Regions from separate parts of the Homo sapiens genome. Here all the other regions are linked to region 2. Evidence: fine-mapped expression QTL. A gene starts in region 2. Each other region holds a variant in brackets. All regions are shown on one strand. Distances are between the middles of the regions.

Region 1 (8,180 bases), 210 kb after region 2:
GCTGGGACTACAGGCGCCCGCCACCATGCTCGGCTAAGTTTTTGTATTTTTAGTAGAGACGGGGTTTCACTGTGTTAGCCAGGATGATCTCGATCTCCTGACCTCGTGATGGGCCCGCCTCGGCCTCCCAAAGTGCTGGGATTACAGGCGTGAGCCACGGCGCCCGGCCTCATTTTAAAATTTTTTGTAGAGATGTGGTCTCACTGTGTTGCCCAGGCAGGTCTTGAACTCCTGGGCTCAAGCAGTCCTTCCACCTCAGCCTCCCAAAGTGCTGGGATTGCAGGCATGAGCTACCGCACCCAGCCAGCAAAATTTTTTAAAACAAAAAACAATTAGTACAAATACCACCCTAACATATTAATTGGTTTTTTTTCCTTTGTTCTTCCTCAGGCTGTCTTAGCTTTTGCAAATATTTTAACATAGTTGAACTCATGGTATGTTAAAATTACCATAAGTACTGTGGCCAGCTTTAGTGGCTCATGCTTGTAATTCCAGCACCTTGGGATGCCAAGGCGAGAGGATCACTTGAGGCCAGGAGTTTGAGACCAGCCTGGGCATTTTTAGAGACAGGGAAATCCTAAGTCTAAAAAAAAAAGCCAATTGTGGTCGCCTGCAGTTGTGGCTACTCAGGAGGCTGAGGCAGGAAGATTGCTTGTGCCAGGGTGGTTGAGCCAAGATTACACCACTGCATTCCAGACTAGGCAACAGAGTGAGACAGTCTCTAAAAAAGAAAAAAAAAAAGTAATTTTTACTGAGTGCTGCTTTATACCAAGTGTTGCTATGCATTTTGCTTTTTAAAAATTATCTTTACATCAACAGCTCTACCAAATAGGTGGTTTATTCCACTTAATGATGAGGAAGAAGAATCAAAGAAGGTAATTTGTCCTAACCTAGGGATCACACGTCATGCTGGTATTTAAATTCACATCTGTCTGACTCAGAAGCTTTTAGTCTTCTACCTAGGTTGTGCTGGTTTTCTGAAATCCTGGCTCACCTCTCCATTTAGACCTCTTTATTTTTTTAAAAGCCTCTTAGCACCTGTAATGACAGCACTTTGGGAGGCTGAGGTGGGCGGATTGCTTGATCTTAGCCTGGGCAACATAGCAAAACCCCATCTCTACAAAAATACAAAAATTAGCTGGGCATGGTGGCATACCTCTGTAGTCCCAGCTACTCAGGAGGCTAAGGCGGGAGGATTACCTGAGCCTGGGAGTTTCGGGCTGCAATGAACTATGATTGCACCGCTGCACTCCAGCCTGGGTGACCGAGCAAGACCCTGTCCCTCCACTCCCGCCCCCCCACAAAAAAACCTCTTAGAGACATAGTTTTATAGAGATAGGATTCTTTTAGCATTCCATTACTACTGAGATTTTTATATTATCAGAATTCTGCACCTACTCAGTGTGAAGTAATAGCTAAAGCATTGTTTTCCTACCTCCTTCATGTCATGGTATACACAGAAGACGACATTTGTGTAAGACCCCTGGTAAACTAGAGAATATTTGCAAATTTGGTATAAAAATTCATTGTTGCTGGGTGTGGTGGCTCATGCCTGTAATCCCAGCACTTTGGGAGGCTGAGGCGGGCAGATCACTTGAGGTCAGGAGTCCGAGACCAGCTTGGCCAACATGGCGAAGCTCCGTCTCTACTAAAAATACAAAAATTAGCCAAGCATGGTGGCACATGCCTGTAATCCCAGCTACTCGGGAGGCTGAGGCAGGAGAATTGCTTGAACTGGGAGGCGGAGGTTGCAGTGAGCCAAGAACGCACCACTGCACTCCAGCCTGGGAGACAGAGCGAGACTCCATCTCAAAAAAAAAAAAAAAAAAAAAAAATCAGTTGTGTTTTCTTAATACAGTAATGATAACAAAATACATTAAAAATCAGACATTGAGCAACAGAATAAAAATGTATGAATATTAAATAAATAGACTAAGAAACTACAAAATTATGTTTTATTTAGGAACACCTAATAATACCAGATGTATTAATAATGATGATGTTGATTATAATGCTTTTGATGACAAACATACATTTAGAAATTGTGGTGCTATTAGAGCAAATTAAATAGAAAACTTCATTTACATATGGGTGCAAAACGTAGAACCTCACTGATTGTTAAACAATGTAGACTAAAATAAAAATATAGACTAAAATGATTCAACAGGAAGATCAAGAGAAGGGGCTATTTCATGGAGTCACTGTACTGTGCCATGTGCATAGTTTTATGTACCAAAACTATGGTACTTAAGTGGTTCCATATAGTGAAGTCATGTGCATAGTTTTCTGTACCAAAATTATAATTAGGAAGTTTATGTAGAGAACTATATGAATTAAATATAACTTTACCCATCCTGAATTTTTAGTTGGTTGCAAAACATTTTTAATACAATACAAAATTTTATTCAGAAGATCTTTACATTACACTACTTATAAGCCATTTTAGAACAATAAATGATTGGGAAGATCTGATATAAAGCCTTTTAGCTCTAACGTATTGATAGTAAGCATTCAGTAAATATTGAGTATTGTTATGTTTAGTTAGTAAAGCAAAGTGGTTAAGATTATGAGCTTTGGAATCAGACATAGTTGGTTTCTAATCCTGGTTTTGCTACTTACATAAGCTTTATGTAAGCTGTCTGTGCACAGTGCCTTATTCTTAGTAGGCATTTAGGTGATTTTCTTTTAGACTAAGATGAGGATAAAAATCTTTAGTGAGTCTTACCGTGACCTACCAGACACTGTATCATCTGATCCCCCATTAGCTCTCAGTACTTGTCTTTCCCTTGTTCAACCCATTCCAGTCACATTAGTGTCCTCCTTGTTTCTCAAAAACTCCAGTTGCTAGGAATAGATGCTTAAGGGCCTCACATCTGTTTTTCCTTCTGCCTGGAATGCTATTCCATCAGCTACACACATGGCTTGCAAATGTCACCTTTGTAGTGAAGCACTTCCAGGCCATGATATCTAAAAATTTCAGATGAACTTTCCTCACCTTCTCATTTTTTTAAATTGAGGTAAATTTTACATATAGTAAAATGCATAGAACTTAAATCTACAGTTTGATGGGTTTTGACAACGTATACAACCATGTAACCAATATGGTTTGGATATCTGTCCCCCGCAAATCTCATGTTGAGATGTAATCTGCAATGTTGGAGGTGGGACCTGGTGGGAAGTGTGTGGGTCATACGGGAGGGTCCCTCATGGTTTGGTGCTGTTCTCAAGATAGTGAGTGCAGTCTCAGGAGATCTG[T/G]TTTTTTTTTGTTTTTTTGTTTTTAGAGACGGAGTTTTGCTCTTGTTGCCCAAGCTGGAGTGCAGTGGTGTGATCTCAGCTCACTGCAACCTCCGCCTCCCAGGTTCAAGCGATTCTCCTGCCTCAGTTTCCCGAGTAGCTGGGATTATAGGCGCCTGCCACCACACCCGGCTAATTTTTTGTATTTTTAGTAGAAACAGGGTTTCACCATGTTGGCCAGGCTGATGTTGAACTCCTGACCTCAGGTGATCTGCCTCCCTCGGCCTCCCAAAGTGCTGGGATTACAGGTGTGAGCCACTGCGCCCGGCCAAGATCTGGTCATTTAAAAGTGTCTGGCACTGCCCCCCGCAACCTTGCTCCCATTCTCGCCCTGTGATGTGCTTGCTCCGCTTCGCCCTCCACTGTGAGTAAAAGCTCCCTGAGGCCTCCCCAGGAGCCAAGCAGATGTCAGTGCCATGCTTGTGCAGCCTGCAGAATTGTGAAACAATTAAATCTCTTTTTTTAATAAACTAGTCAGCCTCAGGTATTTCTTTATAGCAACACAAGAATAGCCTAATATGGTAACCATCACCCAAATCAAGAAATAGGACATTTTTGCCTCCTTTGAAAGTTCTACCCACCACCCCTTCATCCTCCCCCAGGCTACCACTGTTATAATTTCTATCATTCTAGAATTAGTGTTGGCTGTATTTTTCTTTTTTTTTTTCAAGAAATATTAACTATTCTTTATTTGATATATATAAGCCATATAAAATGCCTTTTAATAAGTTAAAAGAACCATTTTATTTTGAGATGGGGTCTTACTGTGTCACACAGGATGGGTTGCAATGGCAGGATCATGGCTCACTGCAACCTTGACTCCTGGGCCCAAGCCATCCTTCCACCTCAGCCTCCTGAGTAGCTACGACTACAGGAATGCACCACCATGCCTGGCTATTTTTAATTTTTGTACAGATGAGGTCTCTCTATGTGGTCCAACTTGTGGCCTCAAGCAATCCTCCCACTTCAGCCCCAAAAAAGTATTGTGATTACAGGCATGAGCCACTATGCCCAGCCAAGGAACCATTTTAGACACAGAGAATTCTAATTAAATTGACATAGTTAAGACCAGAAATATAAAGTAGACATTGTTACCTTATCTTTAGTCTTTGCCTTTAAGAGGCACGTGAACGCAGAACACAGGTGGGTCTTGCTTGGTTCTGAGACAGTGAAGACATTTCCCCAGTATTTAAATATATTCATATAGCTAGTTATATAAATCTAAATATAAAGCCAATCTCTAATAGGTTTTAAGATGGCATTCACCATCTTTGTGAAAAGTTGAACACTACGAATTAAGTCCAATCATAGTTTTAGAAGGGGGAAACAGTGATACCATTTACTGAATCAGAATTACTGTTAAAATTTTAAAAAACCCAAATGTATTCATTTAACCACAAGCGAGTCTTAATTAAATCAGGACTGCTCAACAAAAATATTCTGTGAGTTATTCATGATTTGAATTCTGATGTATATTAGAGAGCTATTAAATTATGTACACATAAAAAAGTCATGTGGTCAATTATTACTGATTATTAGCTTTTCTGAGATAAGCTATCAAGTCTGCCCTTTCTGCCTTCTTCTTAGTGCTGACAATGGTCATTTTTGTTCCAGGGATGTACTTCTTGGGATTCTGCAAATACTCCATCAGTGTCTCCTCTCCTCAGGTGATGCCTTTGTTCTCATTGGCGTCTGTGAGAGAATTCAGTGGCCTGACCTGTCTTCTGCATAAATAGACCATGGAGATTTGGCTCACTCTTGTACTTGCCTCGCTTTACCATGGTGTGGCATTGGGCACACTTTTTTTTTTTTTAAGACAAGTTCTGGCTCCATCATCCAGGCTGGAGTGCAGTGGCACGATCTTGGCTCACTGCAACCTCTGCCTCCTGGGCTCAAGCCATCCTCCCACCTCAGCCACCCGAGTAGCTGGGGCTACAGGCATGCACCACCATACCCGGCTAATTTTTGTATTTTTTATCAAGATGGGGTTTCACCATGTTGTCCAGGCTAGTCATGAACTGCTGGGCCCAAGTAATCTGCCCACCTCACCTCCCAAAGTACTGGGACTACAGGCGTAAACTACCATGCCCGGCCTTGGGCACACTTCTGAACAAAACTCTTCTTGCCTTTCTCAACATCACCCATATTTAATTCTGTCTCTCATCACTGGTACTACGAACTTCCTGTTCAGAAGCCGGACATCCCACTCTTTCAGTTTTAGCTGTTTTAAAAGGAATATAGAATATGTACCTTTTAAAGTTTGGTTTCTTCAACTGAACATAATGTTTTTGAGATTTATTCATTTTTCACGTATCCATAGTTTATTGTTTTTTATGGCTGAGTAGTATTCCATTGTGTGAGTATTCCAAAATTAGTTTATTCTTCTGATTATTGACATTTGAGTTATTTCCTTTTTTTTGCTATTATGAATAAAGATGATAAAGATGCTGTGAGTAGTCTACAAATCTTTTTGTAGACATATTGTTTTTATTTCTCTTGGGTAAATACCTGAGAATGAAATTGCTGGGTTATAGAGTATATAATTTTTTTTTTTTGAGATGGAGTCTTACTCTGTCACTAGGCTGGAGTGCAGTGGCACGATCTCAGCTCACTGCAACCTCCGCCTCCCGGGTTCAAGCGATTCTCCTGCCTCAGCCTCCCTAGTAGCTGGGATTACAGGCGCCTGCCACCACACCCAACTAATTTTTTGTACTTTTAGTAGAGGCAAGGTTTCACTATGTTGGCCAGGCTGGTCTCGAACTACTGACCTCAGGTGATCCACCTGCCTCAGCCTCCTAAAGTGCTGGGATTACAGGCATCAGCCATCGTGCCCGGCTGAGAATGTAAAATCTTAGCTTTATTAGCAACTTGCTGTTTTCTGATGTGGTTGTACCATTTTATACTACCCCTAGCAATGAATTAGAATTCTGTTTGCTCCACATCTTTGTTGATATCTGATATTGTCATTTTTTTTGAACACGAGTTCCATTTGCTCCACATCTTTTTTTTTTTTTTTTTTTTTTGAGATAGAGTCTCTCTCTGTCTCACTCTGCCACTCAGGCTGGAGTGCATTGGCTTGATCACGGCTCACTGCAGCCTCAATCTTCCAGGCTCATGCCTTTCTGCCACCTCAGCCTTCCAAATAGCTGGGACTACAGGTGTGCACCACCACACCCAGCTATTTTTTTTTTTTTTTTTTTTGTAGAGACAGAGTCCTGCTATGTTGCTCAGGCTGGTCTCAAACTCCTGGGCTCAAGCGATCCTCCTACTTTAGCCTCCCAAAGTGCTGGGATTACAGGCGTGAGCCACTGTGCCCAGCCTACATCTTTGTTGATATTTAATATTGTCAGTGCATTTTTTTCCTTTTCTTTTTAATATTAGCCATTGTTTGTATAGTGTTATTTCATTTTGGTTTTAATTTACACTTCTGCAATGACTAGTGATGTTCAGCACCTTTTCGCATATTTATTCATTATTTGGAGTGTGTGTGTGTGTGTGTGTCTGATTTCAGTCTTTTGTACATTAAATTTGCTTTTTGTTTTTTATTATTGATTTGTAGGCATTCTTGATGTTTTCTGGATATAAGTCCTTGGTCAGATAAATATATTATAGATATTTTACCCTGGTCTATGCCTTGTTTCTTTACGTTCTTGTTTTGTTTTGAATAAACTTTTTATTTAGAAGTGATTTAAGATTTACAAAAAAGTTGCAAAGATAGTTTAGAGAGAGAGTATTTGTATACCCTTCACCCAGCTTTCCTGAATGTTAACATTTTACATAAACATGGTGCGTTATTCAAAAGAAGTTTTTTTGTTGTTATGTTGATATTCTGGATGCCATTTCCTTCATTATAGTTTCTTTTTTTTTTTTTTTTTTTTTTGGAGACGGAGTATCGCTCTGTTGCCCTCTGCACTCTGCTGGAGTGCAGCGGCATGATCTCAGCTCACTGCAACCTCTGCCTCCCAGGTTCAAGTGATTCTCCTGCCTCAGCCTCCCGAGTAGCTGGGATTACAGGCACGTGCCACCACATCTGGCTAATTTTTGTATTTTTGTAGAGACTGGATTTCACCATGTTGGCCAGGCTGGTCTTGAACTCCTGACCTCAGGTGATCTACCCACCTCGGCCTCCCAAAGTGTTGGGATTATAGGCGTGAGCCACTGCGCCCAGCCCCTTCATTATATTTTCCAATCAGTTTTTCTTATATTATAAAAGTAATTTTTGGCCGGTTCCAGTGGCTCTTATCTGTAATCTTAGCACTTTGGGAAGCTGAAGTGGGTGGATTGCTTGAATCCAGGAGTTCAAGACCAGCCTGGGCAACAAAGCAAGACCCCATCTCTAGAAAAAATACAAAAATTAGCCAGGTATGGTGGTGCGTGCGGATAGTTCCAGCTACTCAGGAGTCCGAGGAGGGAAGATGGCTTGAGCCTGTGAGGCAGAGGCTGCAGTGAGCTGAGATCAACACTAAACTTCAGCCTGGGTGACAGAGTGAGACCCTGTCTCAAAAAAAAAAAATAAATAAAGCAATTTTGCCTGGACAAGGTGGCTCACACCTGTAATCTCAGCACTTTGGGAGGCTGGGCAACATAGAGAAACCCCATCTCTACAAAAAAACAAACAAAAAAATAGCTGGGCATGGTGGCATATGCCTGTGGTCCCAGCTACTTGGGAGGCTGAGGTAGGAGGACCACTTGGGCCTGGGAATTCAGGTCTATAGTGAACTGTGATTGTGCTGCTGCACTTCAGCCTGGGCAACAGAGTGAGACTCTGTCTCAAAATAAAAAAAAATAAAAAAGTAAAAAATAAAAGAAAAAAGAAAAGCAGTTTTTAAAAAGTAGTAGTAGTATTTATTTGATTTTCTTACTGAACTATGTTGTTGGCTTTCTCA
Region 2 (8,180 bases):
AACTTCATGGGATTGTTGTGAGAAATGAGTGAATATAAAGGATTGAGGCTGGACGCGGTGGCTTACGCCTGTAATCCCAGCACTTTGGGAGGCCGAGGTGGGCGGATCACCTGAGGTCGGGAGTTCGAGACCAGCCTGACCAACATGGAGAAACCCCACCTCTGCTAAAAATACAAAATTAGCCACGCATGGAGGCGCATGCCTGTAATCCCAGCTACTCGGGAGGCTGAGGCAGGAGAATCGCTTGAACCCGGGAGGCGGAGGTTGCAGTGAGCCCAGATTGCGCCATTGCACTCCAGCCTGGGTGACGAGAGTGAAAACTCCGTCTTAAAAAAAAAAAAAAGGATTGAGAACAGGGCCTGGCCCAGGGTACATATCTGCAAACATTATTATTGCTGCTGTTGTGATTCTTGCTCCTTCTTCCCCCTTTCTCTGCTGAGAGAAGATGTGCCAAGCAAGGTTGATCTTCCCTGGCTGAAACTGTGTACTTTGTCCTCTGAAGTTCTCTAGCCCCAGGGACTGTACCCGACTCCCTTCATCCCAGCAGCAGTTCTTACTTGGCAAGATGGTCTTGTATCGGTCCTTGGAGGCGTGGCCAGGGATGTCCAGGTCTTCGGGGCTGACAAAGTTTGAAGGGATCTTCTGGCAGGGGGAGGAAATGGGTGAGCAGCTGACTCCTAGCCTCCTTTTCTCTCCTTCTACCTTTTTCTAGAACAGCTGGACTCTGGCCATTCCTTCTTGACAATAGTATGTAGGCCTAGATGGGGTGGGGGCAGAAGGGGAAGCCTGGGGGCAGCCCCTCCCTCAGCCCTGAAGTTCTCTTTCCTAAGGGGCCCAAAGGGGAGACTTGCCCAGGGTGCCCGTGAGAGAATGGTTCCAGCTGGCTGCCTCTGATACAGAGGGCAGAGCGATTCAGAGGGGACCCCAATTTCTTACCAAGAATTCTTCTTCCAGTTGCTTGGGGCTGGGTGGCTGGCGCTGAAGGGCCCAGCGGGTAAGGGGGTGTCCAGCAGTGCGCAGAAAGTGTAGGGTGACCTCCCGGGGTGTGTTCACAGAGCAGATGGGTTCTACGGCCCCCAGGGACCGAACGTCCAGCATCAGAGCCACATTGGAGCCCCGCCTGCAGGCATAGCCCACCACTGCCTAGTGAGCACCCAATCATATTTGCTTTTCTTTTCTTTTTATCTTTTCTTTTAGAGATAGGGTCTCTCTCTGTTGCCCAGGTCTGGAGTGTGATGGCACTATTATGGCTCACAGCAGCCTCAAACTCCTGGGCTGAAGCAATCCTCCCACCTCAGCCTCCAGAGTAACTGGGACCACAGGTACATGCTACCACACCTGGCTAATTTAAGTTTTTTTTTTTTTTGGAGAGACAGTGTCTTGTTCTGTTGCTCAGGCTGGTTTTGAACTCCTGGGCTCAAGTGATCCTTCTGCCTTGGCTTCCCAAAGTGCTGGGATTATAGGCATGAGCCACTGTGCCTGACCATATTTGCTTTTCTTACAAGTATTACTGTTATAAGGCACCTCTGAGGGGGCCGCTCTTTATCTTTCCTTTAACCTGGTAGCCCAGTAAATTTAGGGTTTGGGCCCCTGCTGTGTGCCCTCTTTTTTTTTTTTTTTTTGAGAGAGAGGAGGTCTCACTATATTGCCTAGGCCGGTCTCTAATTCCTGGACTCAGGAGATCCTCTCACCTCAGCCTCCCAAAGTGCTGGGATTTTGGGCATGAGCTACCATGCCTGGCTCAGCCCTCTCCCTTTGTCAGCCAGAACAGGGCAGCCTTGAACTCAACTGCTCCTTCCAGCTGCCTGCCTCTTCCCACTCCCAGCCAGGCCCTGTGGCTCCGACATGCATCCAGCACCAAGAAGGCTGTGGGCCTTGCCTGGAATTTAGGGAGCAGGCTCATGGTTGATATGAAACTCTGTGCTCCAGACATGCAAAAGACATGCAAATGAGCACTACTGGTTTCCTTTCCAAATTGGAGTCAACAACTGAGGGCCCTCTGGACCCTGCTGTCAGAGCTGGAGGGGCAGATGGAAGGAAGGGAGGAGCGGAATGGGGGCTCAGGGCTCGGAAGACCCCTCCCCCAGGGAAGATCTCACCTCTCCTGCAGTCGCACATGCTTCTTGGCTGGCGTTTTTTCAGGCGGAGGCTGGGTCATGGCTGCCCCCAAAGACAAGGTCAACGGCTGTGCTCTGGAGCGCCCCCCATGGGCTTGGACCATGCTGAGGTGGGGTGCTGGGCCCAGGGGAGGCTCACTCAGCCATGAGGTCTGCCTGAAAGACAGGGCCCTCCGCTGCTGTTCTCTGGCCTGCCTGATTGGCCAGAAGGAGGCTCCCATGCCAGGCCAGGTTTGCACTCTGTTTTCACTGGGGCGTCTTCTGTTCCCCAAGAGGTGGCCTCATTTTCACTAAGGGAAGGACAGGATCTATTTGGTGGGACCCAGGGCAGAAGGCAGTCTCGGGGTAGAGTAACGGCAAGATAAAGGGTAGAGATTGTGGATGAAGATAGGAAAGAATCCAGAAGGAGGAAAAGAGAGAGGGGAGAGAGGCCACACACCAGAGTACACAGGGCTCTGAGCAGGTCCAAGTGGGAGAAGGCAAGGGAGGAAACAGAAAATATGTGTTCTCTAGGACGGAAGGGAGAAAGCACGCAGAAGCCATCTCTGAGCTAACCAGTGGGCCTTCCCCTGAACAGAGAATGGAGGCCTCCAGCAGTGTTGGAGCTGGTTGGGCAGCCAGGCAGGCGGGCTCCTGGACCCCAGCAGGGTCCTCTCCTAACTGCTGCTGTTCCACTCCCAGGTCTGTTTCTGGCTTCTGGGGTCTCTGTCCAGGGAGGTAGGCTGGAGGTGTTTCCTTCCTCCTCCTGCCCATCCCCCCGTCTCCCGCCTCTGTAACCGTCACAGGAAATGGCCTCACCAAGCCCTTGAACGACAGCGCATGGTGAGGCGACAGCTGGGGGCAAGACAGGAGGCATGGAGGTGGTGGGACCATCTCCTCTTGGGGGCAGTCCCTATCTCCCAGAGCCAGGGTCACAGTGGGCGAGGTGGCGGGGGTGTTGAATCACCAAGGCAGCAGGGACGGAGGTGAGGGGACAGAATGGGCCTGGCACAGGTGTGAGTGGTAGAGCGAGGGTCTCTGGTAGCAGAAAAGGTCCCTTCAGCCTCTGCTCTCCTTGTAGCTCCCTGTGGCTTCCCTGCTCACCCCCGTCTTGGGGACATCAGGTCTGTGAGCACCCATACCCCAGCCAGGCACTGTGGCGCCCCACTCGCCCTCCCGCACTCCCTCCTAGAGATGCCCTCTTATATCCCCGGAGTTCGCACCCCCCGGGGCCACAGGACTCCCAGTCCCCCCTTCAGATACTTACTGAAGCAGCTGTGGCCCCCAGGCTGCCTCTTGCCAGCTGTCTGTCTGTCTGTCGGTCTGTCTTTGAGGGCTGAGAAGGCTCCAGGAAGCCAGCTTCCTCCCTCCGCCCCTCCTTGCTGCCACCCACGCACACCCCAGCTGCATTCTGCCCTCCTGTGCCTGCTGCCGCTGCCACCAGGGGTCGGCTGCCTCCCGCCTGTGCCCTTCTGGGGCCCAAGGCCCCGTTCCCTGGGAATGGGTGAGGGGCCAGGCCTTCCCGACCATCCTGCTTTCCCCAGCTTCCAGACCCTCTCCCCTCTTCTGTGTTTCTCCTCTGGGTCTTTGTCACATCCAGCCGCTGCCTACTTGCTGGGCACAGCTCGCCTGACCCCCAGCTCTGTGCTGTCCCACAAAGAACCCAAGGCTCTCCTGCTCAACCTGACCTTGGCCGGAGGCTTATTTCTCCTTCTCTGCTTCTGCCCCACAGCCCTCTCCCTCAAGGCCCTCTCCCTCAAGGCCCTCTCCCTCAAAGCCCTTGCTGCTTCAAGCCTTGGGAATTCATGGCCAAGCACAGACCACATCTTCCCAGAGCAGATGTGGCACAGACTCGGGGTGGGGAAAAAGAAGAAGCAAGAATCCATGCCTCACAATGTGAAGGAAAGGGCCGGGGCCAGGCCAAAAAGGTCGTCTCCACGCCTGTGCCACGGCCCAGCTCTCCACAGCCCACGGCCTGAGTGTAGGCCAGCCCAGCAGGAAGCAGATAGCAGAGTCCACTTGTGGGAGGGAGTCCGAGGGGCTTCCCCTGGGCCCTCAGCCCCCTGCAGGCCTCCTCCCAGAACCCTGACATCTACTTAGAAGACTTACAGACAGTGGACAGTCTCTGGCCCTCACACCAGGGGACTCCCATGTCCTCTTCGCTGCTGGGGTGCCTGGATGCCTGGGACCTGAAGGGTGGCCCCCAAGTCCAAGACTCCTCTGCCCACTGCCCCTGCCTGACCTTGGCAGGCTCCTTGCGGGCCAGCAGCCCAGCCGGTTCATGCTCGCTGCACGCCTCCTTTTACCTTGTAACATTTCAAACGCCCTTCCCTTCCCGGCCCCCAACATGCACAATCCACGTCCTCTTTCTTCCTCCCACTTCCCTGATTCAGCTGTCAAATGGTGACAGCAAAAAAGAAATGAGGTACCCTAGGCACAGGGGGTAGGCATGCCGGAGGGGGTGGTCGGGAGGGGGCTGGCCTTCTGCTGGCCCCTTGAGGAGGAGGGTTGAGACGAAGAACAAGAACAGCCCCCAGAGGCTCAGAAGGCCTCCCAGCACCCGCCCTTGCTCTTGGCAGTGGGGACAGGGGCTGGCTCTTTTTTGAGCCCCTCCATGGCCAGCTGATCCTGGCACCTCCTTCCCTGCAGCCTGCGTTCCTCTCCGGAGTGGGTGGGTTTCCCTGAGGAGGAGGCCGATTAGGGCTGGGAAAGGGGTTGGTTCCCGTGCTCAGGACAGACTGGAGGGAAGCAGGAACCTGGGAATCCCTAACATGCTTGCGAGCAGTGACCTGGAGACTGGCCTCTGCCTCACCCCCCACACCAGTCAGTGTTTCCACTGGTGGGTAGTGGGGGCCCTGGGGACACAGGAGGGGGCAGGTGGGGGTTGGAAAGAGGGCCCGGCTCTGAGCCTATGCTGATTGTTATCAAGAACAGGAAGCTAGGACACCACAGGGGTGGGAGGAGGAAGCGGCAAAGCCCTCCCCACACAGGTCTGCCTGGTCCCCCCAAGTTTCCAGGGTCTGAGCCCTGTTGGCTGTGAGCCCACCCCTTTCCCCCACAGACTGAGGCCTAGCAGTGGCTGGACAGTTGGAAGCTGAGCTTCACAGCAAGGAAGCTGGGAGCCAGGCGATGGGGAAGATAGTTGGGGTTGGGGGTGGGGGTAGTGGCTGAGCATTAGGCAAGACCTCTCAAAGATCCCCTGTTCCCTCTGGGTGGATGTGGGGTAGAGGGGACAGTCACTCCTTGGCTCCTGCCCACTCCTTCTTCCCCTGTGCTTAGGGATACCTGGACATCCATGGAGGTGTGTGGCCAGAGCTCATGAGGGCTGAGGATGCCAACTGCAACCTCAGATGGCACAAGACATGCGTCATCGCCCTGCACCTCCCCCTCCCCAGCCTGGCCTGGTGACTTGGGACGCCCCTCTCTGCCCTCTCTGGAGTGGACTCTGTCCCATCCGGGCTGTTGGAAGGCTCCTGGGCGTGACTCCCTCTCCCCTCCAGAACCTTCCCACCCCTGGGGCCAAAAGGTCACAGCAGCTCTCAAACTTCCATCACTCGAATCGATTTGTGTTCCTGGGTTGAGATTTAGGTTCTAGCCACCCTCGACTCCAGAGAAAGTATAGTAATAGTTGGAAATCAGAAAGATCTATGCATAATGAGTCTAAACGTAGCTTATTAACTGTGTGACCTTGGGCAAATTGCTGAGTCTCAGGCTCCTCCTCAGCTTCCTCCCTCCACTGGGGGATGATCATAGCACCTCCCTTGTCAGCCCATGGTGTGCTTTGCTCACGGAGGAGAGGTTGGGAGTCAGCAGCCAGAGGACCGAGGAGCTGGGAGGAGCTGGCTGGGGAAGTGGGTCTGGGAGCAGCACAGGGTGAGGAGGTCATGGCTGCCGGGTCTCACCTCTCACCAGCCTCCCTCTTCCTCCTCACTGCTGACTTTCTCCCTGAACCCGGGCTGCCGGGGCACTTCCAGCCGAGCACTGAGGAAGTGCAGGAAGGAGTCACTCCCAGGGGTCTCCCAGCATCCCGGGTGGGACAGAGTCCACTCCAGGGAGGACAAAGAGGGGTGTCCCAAGCCACCAGGCCAGGCTGGGGAGGGACTGGTGCAGGGCATGATGCATCTTGAGAGTCAGCCTTGTCCCATCTGAGGCTGTGGTGGGTGCCCTCAGCCCTCCCAAGCTCTGGCCACACACGTCTTGACTCTCTTGTTTTCCCCTCTAGTGATTCCCAGTTCCAGGGCTGTGAGCCGCAGCTCCCTGCCCCAAGTGTCAGAAGCGCCCCCCTCCCTAGCCCAGGCCCGGGGAAAGGCGGACATTACATCTGGAATTCCCAGAAGTCGTTGCTCTTTGCCAGCCCCTAGGGAGTAGGGAGCTCCTTGCTGGGGAGCAGTTGGCCCCCAGAGGCAAAGGCTGCCACCTTTTAACAATCCAAGGGGAGGATCCTGGGGAGAGAGTCAGCTGCCTGGGGCCAGGACTGCTGGGTCCTGCACACTCCAGCTGCTCTGCCCCCTTCCTAGCTGCCCTCCTCGGCTCCTCTCTGGAGAAGCACTAGGATCTCGGGTGGCTGTTCCTCCATCCTTCCCACCCCCAAAACCCTAGGCCAGCCTGAGCTGGCTTGTTCTGCCCCAACTTTGTAGGCCCTGGCTTGTTCCTGTTTGTGTCGGGGAGACAGAAACACCAAGAACTGGATCTGGGAAGCCTCATCCCACAGGAAGCAGGGAGACAGCAGGGGAGACAGGGTGAGTGGGGCAGGGAAGTGCTGTTAAGGGCATGGGATAAGTCCAGGCTGACCAGAGTGACAACTGCACCCCTGTCTCAAAGCTTCAACCCTGTGCCGGGCCAGCTAGGGACCTCCTGCTACCTTTTGGATGAAGGGGAACATCCCATACCCTTTACCCCTGGCTGAGAGGACCAGTAATCCAGCCCTGCTTGGCACTGGGATGCCAGGGCCAGCCTGCCAGGAGGTCCAGGAAAGTGCCTGGTTCTTTGCCCGATGCTGGAACTCAGGACCCTGGCAGGAAGGTTTTAGGATAGAAGAGTCCCTCCCTCTCTCCCAAGCCCAGAGCCAGCCAAATGGACATCTATTCTACAATGTGGCCTTTTCTTCCCAGGGGCTCCCGTCTCCCTCCCGCTCTGTGTTGTCCCCGGACACCCACTCATACATCCATCCAGACAGGTGTGTACACCCTCATGGCCCACGTTTGCACAAATGCACATGCACAGTGTCAATCCACACATGACCAGCCCCTCCCCTGCTCTCCCATGGCCTGGTCAGGGGGACCTAGGCCTTCCCCCACTCCCTGGCCACCTTCCCCATAGTATAGGCAGCAGGGGGAGTGGGCGACTTGGCTGTCCTGAGCCACCCTGCCCCTCTGCTGCCCGGTGATTATCTTCCTCCAGTGTGGGGGCTGCCCAAGGCCAGGCTTCAGGCTGTGGGAGAGCAGGGAGGGGCCGGAAGAGCGCTGCCTGGGACAGCTGTAGGCCAGGCCAGTTCACATTTGGAAGCCAGCACTCCCAGACCTGCCCCTTGCTCTCTCCTCTGCCTCCTGGCTGGCTCTCTCCAGAAGGAATCAGTAAGGTGCCCTGAGACCTCAGGGTAGCGGGGGGGAACCCCAGGGGTTCTCTAGGGAGAGGATGTGGGTTTGTCTGTGGGGGTGGTTGCTGGGGAGGAGATACAGCCCTCGTGGTACCTTTTCTTTTGCTGAATGGAGACGTTTGGGCTGGGGAGGCTGCTGCTTATTTATTTTATTTTTTTTGAAACGGAGTCTCACTCTGTCACCAGGCTGGAGTGCAGTGGTGCCATCTCAGCTCACTGCAACCTCTAACTCCCTGGTTCTAGTGATTCTCCTGCCTCAGCCTCCCGAGTAGCTGGGATTACAGGCATGTGCCGCCACACCCAGCGAATTTTTTGTATTTTTAGTAGAGACGAGGTTTCACCATTTTGGCCAGGATGGTCTTGATCTCCTGACCTGGTGATCCGCCCACCTTGGCCTCCCAAAGTCCTGAGATTACAGGCATGAGCCACCATGCCCAGCTTATTTATCAGAACCTCTAGGGGCCCTGTCTCCCGGTCCCCTAGGCTGC
Region 3 (8,180 bases), 420 kb after region 2:
TTTAAGAACACACCAAGTCCTCAGCTCTAATCTCAGTCATGATGAAGGGTCCCTGAAGTTATGCCTCAACCATGTTAATTTGGTTCAGAAGGCTCCAAACCACATGCTGGACTTTCATTCTCAAAAGCAATCCATATGTGCCTTTTGAGAGCCTGGCAGTTATATTCATATGGCATATTTAGATCTTAGCCAAGAATCAGACATAGCTCTCCTTCCCTGTTGCTTTTCTCCATCATCCTTCCACCTGCCACCCATTTGCTCCATGACTCCTGCCTTTCTCATTTCCTTTCTTGCATGCAAACTAAAAACAAAAACAAAAAGTCATGTGATTTCTTTGTCCTACTTTTCTCTCCTCTGGTCTGTCTTGTCTCTCTCTGTCTTTTCTGTCTGTCCTTTTCATGTCTCAATCTCTACAGAACCTCCACCAGCTAAAACAGATTCAAACCTTGAAGCAGATGAACGAGCAACTGCAGGCTGAGAACAGGGCCCTGACCCGAGTGGTGGCCAGACTCTCGGAGTCCATCGAGTCCTCGGACACCCAGGAGCTCTAGTTCTTGCCCCTACTCTCCAACTCACTTCCCTCCTCCACTACTCCAGGCAGGTTCAGTCTTCTTGTTAGTCCCAGAAGCTCTGTGCTCATCCCCTCCATCCGAGCCTCCATATGCAGGTTCCTGCAAAGCTTGGTTATCTGCAGATGGAAGCAGCCAGGACTGAGATCATAGAATGGGACATACCAGCCTAGGTCAAGGGAGGCAGTGAGAGAGACCTCAGCTGGGCTACCAATATATTCATTTGGTAAGGTCACCACATTAGCTTCTCTTCCCCTGGAGACTGAGTATGAATTTGTTCACTCAGCTACACATAGGTATACACGTGTATGTGCATATACCTGTGTACATGCACATATACATATTTCATTGACGGGGTCATTGCCAGATGGAAATTGATCTTTCTTAGCCAATAGCAACCCAAGTCCAACCCACTCCCCTGGAGCAACTGGGGTTGGGCCTTGGGTAACCAAGGGCAGGGGCTCTCAATCTTGGCTGCAAGAAACATCTAGGAGCTTTTAACGTATACCTATGGGTATATTTTAAACATATACATAGCTTTTAACATATACATATAGGGATGTCTGGGTCCATCCCCAAATAATCAGTGGTCTGGGTTGAGACCCAGGCATCAGTATTTTTTCAAACCTCTCCTATTGATTCCTTATACAACCATGGTTAAGAACCACAGCCCTTTGGATACCAGACAGTCCTCACGGCTGACAACATTACCGATGGAGAGGACTAAAACTCAAGGTTGGAACTGTTCCTGTCCAGCTCCACTACCAGCAAAAACACTCTGCATCCCATTATTCAAGCATAATTGGATAAGCATTCTTTGCCTCCTTCTGCAGTAGTCTTTGCTTTCTTCTCCCACCTTAGGAGGCATATCTCTCATTCCCGTCACAAATCTTTGGGCCCTAGGGATGTGCCCCTCCCTGTCCTTAGTGTGTGGGCTGTGAGGCAGAACACAGCCTATATAAATGAGACCCTCATGGAGCCAGGCCCTCTCTAATGAGGCCAGCTTTGCAAAGGATATGGCAGGCAGTGGAGCAGAGAGCAAGGATTTATTTTCAACTGAGAACCAAAAATGTGCTTGGCAAACTGGATCCTTTCCCTAGCTATGGATCTGAAAGACAAGCTCACAGACAACTGGTTTTTCTATCTCAAGATGGTATGATGGGGTCACCACTCCTCTGAGATGAATTTTTAATTGTCAGCAACAATCTAATTAGTCCTGACCAGAGCCTGTTCTTTCTTTCAGCCTATTTGCTTTTGCCTTCAGGGTTAGTAGCTGGCAACTAATATCCACTAGAACTGAATCACCCGAATTATCATAGGGCTGAGCTAATATCCTGCTGTAGATGCTATCATAGGCAGAAAGAAAATTGAAAGGCAAGTTCTACCATGGCCTGGCTGTAAGCAGCCACTGTTAGGTCCAGACTCCATGCTTTAAAGTTAGCCTCAAGATTCCTGGAAATTTTTACTTAGGCTAAACTAGGGACCCCCCAAAAGGTGTCCCAGTTATTTTTAGTATCCCTTTGTTGCAAGATAGTATAGGATATGGGGCAAAACTAGATCTCATGCTTTCAGTAGTTAATAACCTTAACAGTTGTCATTTATTTAAGGCCTGTGCTGAATGCTTTATATAGTTTTTCTCATTTATTCCCCAAAACAATTATTGTAAAAATGAAAAAAAAAAAACTGAGTCACAGATTAAATAACTTGCCCAAGGTCACTCCGAGAGTAAGTGGTAGAACCAAAATTCAAACCAAATATGTCAGGTTCCAGAGTGCAAACTTTTCACCACTGTAATATAAGCTGTCTGCATATTTGGCACAGTTTTCACCATTTGTTAAGCATGTGGCCCAAACAATGCAAGAAGGATCTATTGAGCAACTACACTGTGCCCCCAGCATTGCAGCTGAGGGAGGAAGGGCAGCATTCTGCTTTCTGAGCACTGTGACTTCCTTGTCAAAGCCTAACTTCTAAAGAGCCATTTACCTACCAAAAGATTTTGCTGCTGTAAAGAAAGCCATTGCCTGGTACATGACCATAGCAAGGGTTAGCAAACTGTGACCCACCACCAGTATGGCCCATAAGCCATACAAATAGTCAAAAAAGAAATCAAAAGAAGAATAATATTTTACGACATATGAACACGAACATTATATGGAATTTAAATTTCAATGTCCAAAATAAAAGTTTTATTGGAACTGAACCAAACTCATTTGTTTACATATTATTGTTATGTCTATGGGTGCTTTTGTGCTACAACAGCAGAGCTGAGGAGTAGCAACAGAGACTGTTTGACCTGCAAACCCTAAGATACTTATTGTCTGGCATTTTACAGAAAAAGCTTGCCGATTCTTGCCAGAAGGAAGGATGAGATAACTAAGCCAAACTGGCAGTGCAGTCGAGAGATTTTACTCTACCTTTTTTTTTTTTTAATAGTTCCCTGGAAAAATCATCTTATCTCAGCATGTAGAGCAAACCACTTACCAACAAAATACCAGAGGGGACTCCCTTCCCACTTTCCTTGTAGTTAAAAGCAAGACAGCTCATGCAAGACTCATCCTGAGTCCCTCTCAACCTACAGCTAGCCTTGCTCTAGGTCTCTGAAGCTTTAGGACCCCTGTAGCCCCTTCCTCTTTAACACATTCCTCAAAGACTGTAAGAAGTAACAGTTGAGAAATGTGTACTTAATTTTATTTGCCCAGGGTATCTTTAACACCAAATTGTGGTAAGCTGGGAACTTAAAAATTAAGAAACTAAGATCCAGAGAGTTAAAATGATAAAGCTTTGCTAAACTTCATACTTATATCGTACTTTCACATAT[G/T]TTCTTATTTAACCATTCTTTAACTTCAAGTGGATATCAGATAACACTGTTCATTTCCCCCTCTCTCTGCTGAGATTGAACTTTGTGGGGCTTCCCCCGCCCCTTGATTTCTACATTCCACCTCTTAACACTTTTTGCCACTCCCTTTAGATGTCAATTGTAGCATGTTGCAGCTGCAAAACTGCCTTGTCCAAATTTTTTTTTCAAGGAATTGACTTCTTAATGTGGAAATAAATCACTAAAACTCTACAAGACTCTACAAGTTGTTTATACATTTTTTAAGGCAGCTTAGTTCTGATTTGATGAGCTGCTAAGCAGTGAAATGTAATCCATTGCCATATATAGCTTCTTCCTACCTATTATGGAAATGTGGCTTTCGTCTCACTTATACCCAAGCTGCAGCCCCAGCATGGGGCGTTAAAGAGCAGATTGAACACGGAAACATGAGGCCACCCTGGGTTTTTTCTAAAAATCTCATTGAAATGAGTTTCCAAGCATTCAGTCTGGTAGGCAAGGCTACAGGGATAGAGGAACGAAGGAGAGGGCAGCCAGAGCTGCTTTGATTAAATCAGAGGTAGGAGACCAGGGTCAAAGGACTGCAACTTTATTTTTATATTTTCTGGATTAAGTCTTCTTAATAAAGTTTGCAGATTATTTGCCTGCCCTCCCACAGTCATGAGAAAACTCACAGTGATTGTAGGAACACTCAGTATCGCAAAGCTCATTATGTATGTCAACACACTTCCACATCTGTTACCTCCTGTGAGCCTTGCAGAGTCCCTACCATACGAGAGAGTAGGACAGGGACTGTTGTTCTTACGAAAGTACAAAAATGGAAATGCAGAGAAGGCGAGTGATCTGCCTAAAGTAATAGATCACTAGTGACAAAGACAATGCTGGAATTTCAGTTTCTAGGCGTCAAACATTTTTGGTGTTTTGTTTTCCATCCCACGTGTAATAAAAGAATGATCTTTGGAGTCAGGCACACTGGGATTCAATATTAGCTTTGCTGGGTGCCTTGAACTAGTTATGGCACTTTTCATTTCCCCATTTGTAGAAATCGGGATAACAACTGTATCATAGTCTCATGAGGCACTAGGGAGACCCTCTAGCACAGTGCCATCCACATTATAGATATTCAGTAATTTTCTTTTTATTTCCCTGATACAAATTATTTATGTATCTGTGATTCATATTTGTGTACATACACATATATTTATATAATTTAACCTATATCTTCTCTGAGAGATCAAGGAAACAGATTATATTCCTTAAGGCACAGTTAGATCTCCTAAGTGGTTAATAGCAGAGCCAGAGCTAGAACTAAATAGGCCTCATAACACCTCAGCACAGGTCACCCTTTACTGGGGGCATTACCTGCCCCTGGGGTCCTATAGGTTGAAATGACTAGTCAAAGGACACCTGTATTGAACAGATACAGATGTAGCTTTCTGTAGCCTGCATAGTGGCGATGTACTTACCTGCTATCCTAAATCGCTCTTGCTGCCAGTGGGACCCACACATAAACTGTACCCTTATCAACATCCCATTAGGATTTTTCAGATGCACAGCGTACTTGTTGAAAGTGCCTGATCATGTAACAAAGACTTGAACTTCCAGGATGGAACTTGAGGCTATTTTTCCTTTTTTTCACAAGTTAGACAACAGTATGTGTAATGTTCCAGGATAGCAGAACTAATAAAATTGAGTTTCCACTCCCTCCCCTGCCCAACAAGCATCTATTTCTGTGAATTACAATGCCATCCCCTAAAACTGCTGATGAGGCCTCTGGGTATCCTTTGGTGACTGTCAGTGGGGAGCTTTGGGGAGGATTAAATACATGCCTAGTGTTCACTGTGCCTCACAGCTCTGTGAGTGTAAGTTTTCTGAGTTTTAATTGTTGAAAGTGGATATGTATAGTATGACCAGTGAGAATTTGGAGGATTATTCACCGAAGGCACCAAGTGGAGGATGCTTAAATCATCTTGTGCATATGGCAAGAAAGCCGAGTACTGCCTCTCTGGCCTTTGCTCTTGTTTTTGATGAGATGTGAAGCAGTATCCTCCTTTAACTCTTCTAGTTGACCACCACCCCCTTTCTGAATTCTTTCCCTATGTCCTCACCAGCCCATTTTGGCTCTCTCCCCAATTTCTTTAGGGGTGAGTTTAAGGGCAGGAGAAATTGAAAGTGGTTACTGATTCAGTAGAATGAAAGGATATACAGTGTGAAATGTGAGGTCTGCCTATGAAGAAATAAGATATTACTGCTAAATATGCCAGCTCAAAAGATGGAGTGGCTATAATCTCCCTAAAGATTAACATTACCAACTCAATAAAAAGGAAGATTGAAGGGAATTTCATCCCTGGGAGAAGGGACCATGAGAGTTTATTCCACACATTGTCTCAAAAGGCCCTGCTCACCAGGCTGGCCTGGCCTGGTCAGGGAGGGCCAAGGAGGATCCTGCCAGGCTCTAACTCACCTTTCCCTCTGTCACCCTACAGGTGTTAACAGAACTGAAATCCGACAACCAGAGGCTGAAAGATGAAAATGGTGCCCTCATCAGAGTCATCAGCAAACTGTCCAAGTAGGCTAGGCTCCAGATTTATGAGGAAAGAAAGGGACAGCATTTGCTGCCCCCACCCCTCTTTTCCAGTCCTTGCCTTCCAACCAAAAGAAATGGATGTTTTGGTGGAAGGACACTTCTTTCTATCACCCTCTTCAGTCACCTCTATACACTCTACATTTTCTCTGCACTTTCAATGCCCTGTTCTTCCAAACCCCTATCCCAAGTTTTATGACAGTTTTAATTGAAGCATGATTGTGGTAATTCGAGCCATCTGGAGAATGCTCTGGGGAGTACACCAGGCTCAGCTGTGGACCCCTCAACTTCCTGCTGCTCAGCTACTTTGTCCACATTGGATTTGGTCCAAACATGTAAGACTTCTACCCTAATCAGTATCCTTCAGCTTTTTACATTAACCCAGTGTCCTCTGATATAGGTGAGTCTTGTGGTAGCCACTCCAGGATCCTGATTGGGGTGCCAAGAGAAACAGCAGGATGTTGAATTGATCATCAGATGCCCTCTGGAATGGTTAGCATCCAAGGTGACAGTGACTGCATTGAGGCGCTCTATTCTTCTTCACCTCTCAGGAACTGACTTTTATTTTTTCTGTCAACACCCAGTAATCTCCCTAACTAGTTTTAACCCTTATTCCTCCCTCATACCTAGCCATTTCTCCAAGGCGCAAATGGCCCTGGCTTCATTTATTCCTTTCCTTTCTATCCTTTTATATTTTTCCCTTCCCCACCCCCTCACTCAATGGTATAAAAGCTAGGACAGAGCACCTGACCTCAGTTGTCTTTGGCCATTGTGGGAAGTCATTATTCTGGAGACAAGAAAATCATCACTCTGGTGCCTTGGTGGCAGCACCACTGCCTGCTCCCTGGAAGGTAGACTATGGCATAAGTGTCAGCTCATTGTTTTCGTCTCCCACTTATCTTCCCCCTTCAAAGTGATTTTCTTTATAAGAAAATTTGGGCTCTGAATACTCCATTCTGCCTCACTTCCTTGACCTTGTTTTCCTCTCTTCGCCCTGACACCTGCTTCTAATGAGAAATGAAGTCAGTGCAAGGAGGAATGAGAGGTGGGGAGGGGAGATTGTTGAGAGATGGACTAGGAAGTGGAAGCAGGCTGGAAAGACACATATGGCGAAAGTCAAGTATCTGAGGCCACTTGCAACATTGTGACAAAGAAGATGGAAGATAGCAGCCTACTGGGCTGTGAGAATAGTGGTGAATTTGATTATTTCCAGTGGTTAGATTTAGCAGAGAGATTTACTTTCTTAGAAATTAATAGGGGAAATGGCACTTAATAGAGGTTTAATGGAATGAAGTACTTTCAACCCATTGATGAGAGTCATGGAAGTTTAGAGTGGCAAGACCCAGAGGTCATTAGGTCCAGCTTTCTATTATTGTGTCACAGGGACCCCTGCTACCACAGCTTTCACCCATGGGCATGGTCAGGTAGCCTCTGGTGGCTATGCATTTATTACTCAAAAGTTGGGCAACTCTAATAACGAGAGAGTTTTTCCTCATATCAGCTGAAGTCTGCCTGTGGATTCTCCTTGTAGTCCAGATCTACTATCTGCAACTCTTTAACGGCACTTGAGATATGTGCAGTGGGTGGTCTCCCCCTCAGTCTTACTTTGAGCTGCTGTTACTCTAGTCCTTTAAGTCATTCCTCATATGGCATGCTTTTCTTACCTGTCACATCTTGGCCATCCTCCTCTAGACAAAACCAGCCTTTAAAATATCATGTCCAGGCCTGGAAAGAATACAAATCCAGTGCAAAATTAAACCATTAGTTCTTGATGATAACCTAGCATTAATACTTACAGTATTTTCTTTTTGTAGGAGTTTTATCCCTTGGTTCACTTGAGTGTGCAAGTCATTAAATCCTCATCATTTTAGGGTTGCCAGTGATATTCAGTGTTTAGAGTGGTTCATTCCCTTAATATATACTACCTCTGTCTGTTAATTCTTTCCTAACATGACATGTAGCTCTCCATGGTCCTCCCTCTGAAACACCACATGCTGTTTAAACTAGAAGCTGTAATTCAAGATCCCAATTCCACCAGGTGCAGTGGCTCATGCCTGTAATCCCAGCACTTCAGGAGGCCGAGGTGGACAGATCACGAGGTCAGGAGTTCGAGACCATCCTGGCTAACACGGTGAAACCCAATCTCTACTAAAAATACAAAAAATTAGCCAGGCGTGGTGGCAGGCGCCTGTAG

The links.
Region 1: its variant is fine-mapped to the expression of PTPN7 in whole blood (TOPMed, PIP above 0.99).
Region 3: its variant is fine-mapped to the expression of PTPN7 in whole blood (INTERVAL, PIP 0.97).

Annotation. Positions count from the first base shown.
Region 1 is chr1:202,364,707-202,372,886 of GRCh38, forward strand. The region is part of intron 1 of PPP1R12B (protein phosphatase 1 regulatory subunit 12B); the gene reads left to right. It also overlaps the pseudogene CYCSP4. Among named protein-coding and RNA genes, the nearest start is that of PPP1R12B, 20 kb to the left of the region's middle. RefSeq lists an enhancer at 1-351. The variant T/G (reference allele first, on the strand shown) is at 3,256.
Region 2 is chr1:202,157,182-202,165,361 of GRCh38, forward strand. PTPN7 (protein tyrosine phosphatase non-receptor type 7) reads right to left here and starts at 3,421. Exons shown (of 10, transcript NM_002832.4): 1 at 3,364-3,421; 2 at 2,100-2,273; 3 at 937-1,120; 4 at 558-642. The coding sequence starts at 2,221. RefSeq lists enhancers at 2,042-2,181, 2,282-2,371, 2,632-2,711, 6,242-6,910, 7,490-7,990.
Region 3 is chr1:202,574,586-202,582,765 of GRCh38, forward strand. It overlaps PPP1R12B (protein phosphatase 1 regulatory subunit 12B), which reads left to right. Exons shown (of 24, transcript NM_002481.4): 24 at 5,889-8,180. The coding sequence ends at 5,975. Among named protein-coding and RNA genes, the nearest start is that of SYT2, 130 kb to the right of the region's middle. The variant G/T (reference allele first, on the strand shown) is at 3,388.